2 separate regions of the Homo sapiens genome follow, and region 1 is linked to region 2. The links come from fine-mapping of genetic effects on gene expression. Tissue or cell type: whole blood. Region 2 holds a variant in brackets; the other region holds the start of a gene. All regions are shown on one strand. Distances are from middle to middle.

What was found. PIP is the estimated chance that this variant, and not a neighbour inherited with it, causes the effect.
Region 1: it holds the start of IRAK2, and the variant in region 2 is fine-mapped to the expression of IRAK2 in whole blood (TOPMed, PIP 0.97).

What each region holds. Positions count from the first base shown.
Region 1 is chr3:10,163,858-10,166,466 of GRCh38, forward strand. IRAK2 (interleukin 1 receptor associated kinase 2) reads left to right here and starts at 1,062. Exons shown (of 13, transcript NM_001570.4): 1 at 1,062-1,191. The coding sequence starts at 1,098. RefSeq lists silencers at 897-1,026, 1,227-1,376.
Region 2 is chr3:10,187,784-10,190,540 of GRCh38, forward strand. All of the region lies in intron 2 of IRAK2 (interleukin 1 receptor associated kinase 2), which reads left to right. Among named protein-coding and RNA genes, the nearest start is that of IRAK2, 24 kb to the left of the region's middle. RefSeq lists an enhancer at 1,820-1,899. The variant C/G (reference allele first, on the strand shown) is at 1,340.

The DNA of each region.
Region 1 (2,609 bases), 24 kb before region 2:
TTTTTTGTAGAGATAAGATCTTCCTATGTTGCCCAGGCTTCTACTTTCATTCTCCAACATAGCTTATCTGCCTATTTTTATTGCTTGTTGTCTGTCTCCCTCCAGGACAAGGATTTTGTCCTTCTCTTCAGAGGTATTCCCAGCACCTACAACAGTGCCTGGCACATAGTAGCTGCACGATACATATTAGCTACTATAGTAAAGTCTACCTGACTACCCTATTTAATAGAATATTCCCCATGCTCAATCTGAATTCCTGATTCCCTTTAACCAACTTTTTTTCCTTTTTTTTTTTTTTTGCAATAGTGCTTATTACCTTTAAGACACTCTGTAACATACTATATTTATTATTTATTGTTAGTCTTTCTCTCCACACCTAGATTGTAAGTCTTATGAAAGCAAGGGCTTTTGTAGGCTTTTTTTTTTTTTTTTTTTTTTTTTTGAGACAGAGCCTCACTCTTCACCCAGGCTGGAGTACAAGGGCACAATCTGGGCTTACTGCAACCTCCGCCTCCAGGGTTCAAGCGATTCTTCTGCCTCAGCCTCCCAGGTAGCTGGGACTACAGGCGTGCGCCACCGTGCCCGGCTAATTTTTGTATTTTTAGTAGTGACGGGGTTTCACCATATTGGCCAGGCTAGTCTCGAACTCCTGACCTCGTGATCCGTCCGCCTCGGCCTCCCAAAGTACTGGGATTACAGGAGTGATCCACCGCGCCCGGCTGTAGGGTTTCTTATTCAGGTATTACCAACACCTAGGGAGTTGCCTGGCATACAGTAGGTAATTAATGGAGTATTTGATGAGCGCATGATGCATGGTGTAGTGCCGATGGAAGTGGGGTCAGAAGGCCTCCTGCCGCTGCGGCAGAATTCCCGTGTGGCCTTCTCCCACCAGGGCCTCAGTTTCCCCTCGCAGTTCCGATTCTCTGGCCGGCGCTGGGGTGGAGCCGGCGGGGCCGTCGTGCCGCCCGTGGCCGCTGGGGACGCTGGTGCCCTCCCGCCCCGCCCACTTCCCCGCCGGTCCGCCCCTGGCTAGAGAAGCCGCAGCCCGCAGTGTCCGACCCAGTCGTCCCGCGCCGGAGCCGGCCCCGTAGCGTGCCATGGCCTGCTACATCTACCAGCTGCCCTCCTGGGTGCTGGACGACCTGTGCCGCAACATGGACGCGCTCAGCGAGTGGGACTGGATGGAGTTCGGTGAGTGCGGCCCGGGGAGGGGAGGGGACCAGGGCGACCGGAGCCCCCAGCGATCCCGCCTGGAGCGGCCGCCAAGCTCCCTCGGGCACCCGGGTTCAGCGGGTCCCGATCCGAGGGCGTGCGAGCTGAGCCTCCTGGACCGGGTCCGCCGCGGACCTCGGCCTGTCACCTGAAGGTGCCGCGTGGTCTCTGAGGACGTCTGTCGACGAGCAGGGGCCGCCGCCACTGCGCTCTGAGTCCAGAGAACGGTGGGTACGGGGGCCCTCCTGTCAGCGCTGCTGGCTCGGTGACGTCCCCAGGTGGCCTCTCATCCAGCCCACAACAGCCTGCAAAGTGCGAGCCTCGACCCTGTAGGGACCCACGGTGCTGTCACTTCTTGGGGGGGTGTGTGTGTGTGTGTGTGTGGTGTGTTTAGTTTTAGTGTATATTAGAAGGATCTATGATTTAACATATATATATATATTGAAACGGAGTTTCGCTGTTGTTGCCCAGGCTGGAGTGCAATGGCACGGTCTCGGCTCACTGCAACCTCCACCTCTGGGATTCAAGCGATTTTCCTGCCTCGGCCTCCCGAGTAGCTGGGATTACAGGCGCCCGCTACCACCCTGGCTAATTTTTTGTATTTTCAGTAGAGACCGGGTTTCACCATGTTGGCCAGACTGGTCTTGAACTATTTTTTTTTTTTTTTTTTTTTTTTTTTAAGACGGAGTCTCACTCTGTCGCCCAGGCTGGAGTGCAGTGGCGCGATCTAGGCTCGTTGCAAGCTCCGCCTCCCGGGTTCACGCCATTCTCCTGCCTCAGCCTTCTGAGTAGCTGGGACTACAGGCGCCCGCCACCACGCCCGGCTAACTTTGTATTCTTAGTAGAGACGGGGTTTCACCGTGTTAGCCAGGATGGTCTGGATCTCCTGACCTTGTGATCCGCCCACCCTGGGCCTCCCAAAGTGCTGGGATTACAGGCATGAGCCACCGCGCCCGGCCTCCGGAACTCTTGATCTCAGGCGATCCACCTGCTTCGGCCTCCCAAAGTGCTGGGATTACAGGCGTGAGCCACTGTGCCCAGCCTATTTATCATATTTGTGATTAAATGTACTTTACCATTATAGTTTTAAAATCAGATATTTACTTTTAGTGTACATTGTTTTGATCACAGTATTTATGACTATCAACCTGTTTTGAGATCAGATGTGTCCTAATAGATTCAGTGTGTATAATGGGGCCTAAGCACAAGCACTTACTTTCACTCTATTGCAAGGTGCACAGTTCTAGATAATTCCGTGGGAAGGCACTCAGACAGCCTCCATATGTTTTGTTTGTTGGTGCCTGACGGATGACTGGCGGAGAGGGCCATGGACTCTGCGGGGAGGCCGCTTGCCTGTTGTCTCTGCTTTCCAGGTGGAGATCTGCATTCCAGGCTCT
Region 2 (2,757 bases):
GTCACTGCTCTGGGGAAATGGTGACCATGGTGAGGGTGCTGGGCATCTCAGGGAAGCCCCATGATGGAGAACCTAGGGGGTCAGAGGCAGTACTTGTATGTTCAGACCAGCATCCAGTGTGAGAAGAGTCTGTTTCTGGGGCTAGGGTCCGCCATCACCCTGGGGCTTAACGATGAGAGGCCTACTCCAGAGAGGGATTTTTCCAGATGACCAGGCTTAGGAGGGGACTGTGGGCCGGGCTCCAGACCTTATATACTGGCATCTTAGGGGCTTAAGAGCAGGAATTGAGGCAGAAGTGAGTATCCCAGCTGTGGCTCCCAGGCAAAGGAGAATCCACTATAATCAATGCTGAGCTCTAGAGCTGATTAAGTGCCACCAAAGGCTGGGTTAGGTGCTGAGCCTGTAGATGGTGGGGAGCAGATGGCTCTGGCTCTGAGGGTGGAGTCTGGAAACTGGGTGCACTGGCCTGTGAGGTGAAATTCTCCCTCTGCCCTGCCACAGGGATTTAGATATGCAGGAGCTGGACAAGAGAGTTAATAAGGAACTAAAAATACATTTTTTGTCTTTTTGAGATGGAGTCTCACGCTGTCACCTGGGCTGGAGTGCCATGGCTCGATCTCGGCTCACTGCAACCTCCGCCTCCCGGGTTCAAGCGATCCTTGTGCCTCAACCTCTGAGTAGCTGGGATTACAGGCATGCACTACCACGCCTGGCTAATTTTTGTAATTTTATTTATTTATTTATGTATTTATTTATTTTTGAAATGGAGTTTCGCTCTTGTTGCCCAGGCTGGAGTGCAATAGCGCAATCTCGGCTCACCACAACCTCTGCCTCCCGGGTTCAAGCGATTCTCCTGCCTGAGCCTCCCGAGTAGCTGGGATTACAGGCATGCGCCACCACGCCCGGCTTATTTTGTATTTTTAGTAGAGACAGGGTTTCTCCATGTTGGTCAGGCTGGTCTCAAACTCCCGACCTCAGGTGATCCCCCTGCCTTGGCCTCCCAAAGTGCTGGGATTACGGGTGTGAACCACTGTGCCTGGCCTAATTTTTGTATTTTTAGTAGAGACAGGGTTTTGCCGTGTTGGCCAGGCTGGTCTTGAATCCCTGACCTCAGTGATCCACCCGCCTTGGCCTCCCAAAATATTGGGATTATAGGCATGAGCCACTGCGCCTGGCCTAAAAATACATTTGCTGAGTGCCTACTGTGCGCTAGATGCTGGGGATGCAACCATGAAAACACAGCCAAGGTCTCAGGCCTCATGGAGCTTACAGTCCAGTGGGAGATGAATTATAAGAAGCTAACACACAGATGCATGTCACCCACTGCAGTATGAGTGCT[C/G]AAAGGATAAATGTAGGTCAGGTGGGGAGGGCAGGTAGGAGAGTGCAAGATGAGAGGATTTGATCTCATCAGGGGAAGTTTCTCTGAGGCAGTGAAACTTGAGCCTCCTCCGTAAGGAATAGTGGACCAAGAAGTGAAGGACGACACACACATATCTAGCCGGGGGGAGCAGCATGTACAAAGGCCTGGGGGTGGGCTGAGGCTGGGGACAGGGCAGGGTCAGGCCACCCAGTGCCATGCAGGCTACCGCCAAGAGTTTGCTTTCACCGGAGAGTGAAGGGAAGACGTTGGAGGGCTTCCACCTGGGAGTATCCCCTGTTTTGGCCACTATATGGACTGGGGGGCTGGGCCTGTGAGGTTCCAGATGTCAACTGAGTAGGACAGGAAGACACTTCAGGAATCCGAAGGGATTTGGGAAGTGACCAAGGTTTTCTCTTCCCATCTGTTGCTACTATCTACCTGAAGTCTTGAGTTTCACAATTTTCATGCAGTTTCTTCTTGGTTGTGCAACTCTTGACAGTTTCTAACTTTGGGTTTGGCATCTCGGCCAGAGTCATTTCCTTCCTGGAGCTGGGCTCTCATTGAGTGGAAAATTTGGGGCTGCTATGTAAAATGAAACAGAAGAGAATGAACCCTTCCTCTCCGGAAGGGGCCGGGCTGTGCCAGGTCCAGACAGGGCTTGTGTGTCTGCTCTCTTGGAAGGCTGCCCTGCCTCCGCCCCTTTCCAGCTGCTAGGGCACAACAGAACATGCCTACATCCAGACCCTGCCCACTGCAGACTTGCCACTGGAGGCGACACTGTTTTGGGCCAAAACCACAGGCCAGGGGTCAGAGCACCTGGGTTCTAGTAATAGCTTGTGTTTAGCACCTGATATGTGCCAGGTAAGCATCTTTTCTCACAACTCTTATTATCCCTATTTTATAGAAGAGGAAACTGAGGCTCAGAGATTAAGTAATTTCCCAAGGCCACATAGCCCATAGTGATGAGGCCAACATGGGAATTCAGGTCTGCCTGACCTTACCCGCTTCTTGGTAGGTTACTAGATTGCATCATCACTTGCCCCATCTGGAAAATGGGTAAAGACATTGCCCTATCTACTTTTCTTGTAGACTGGGAAGGTTCAAAGCATACGAGATGGTGAGGTTTTCTTTGTTTCTTTTTTTTTTTTTTTTTGTGAGACAGAGTCTCACTCTGTTGTCCAGGCTGAAGTGCAGTGGCATGAGCTTGGCTCACTGCAACCTCTGCCTCGTGGACTCAAGCAATTATCCTGCCTCAGCCTCCCGAGTAGCTGGGACTACTGGCGCCCACCACCACGCCCAGCTAGAGGTTTTCTTAAAGTTAATTGCTGAGTGGCTAAGGACAGGTCACTTGACCTTTTCCTTCCATGCATTCATTATTCCATTGGAAAAAAGCAAGG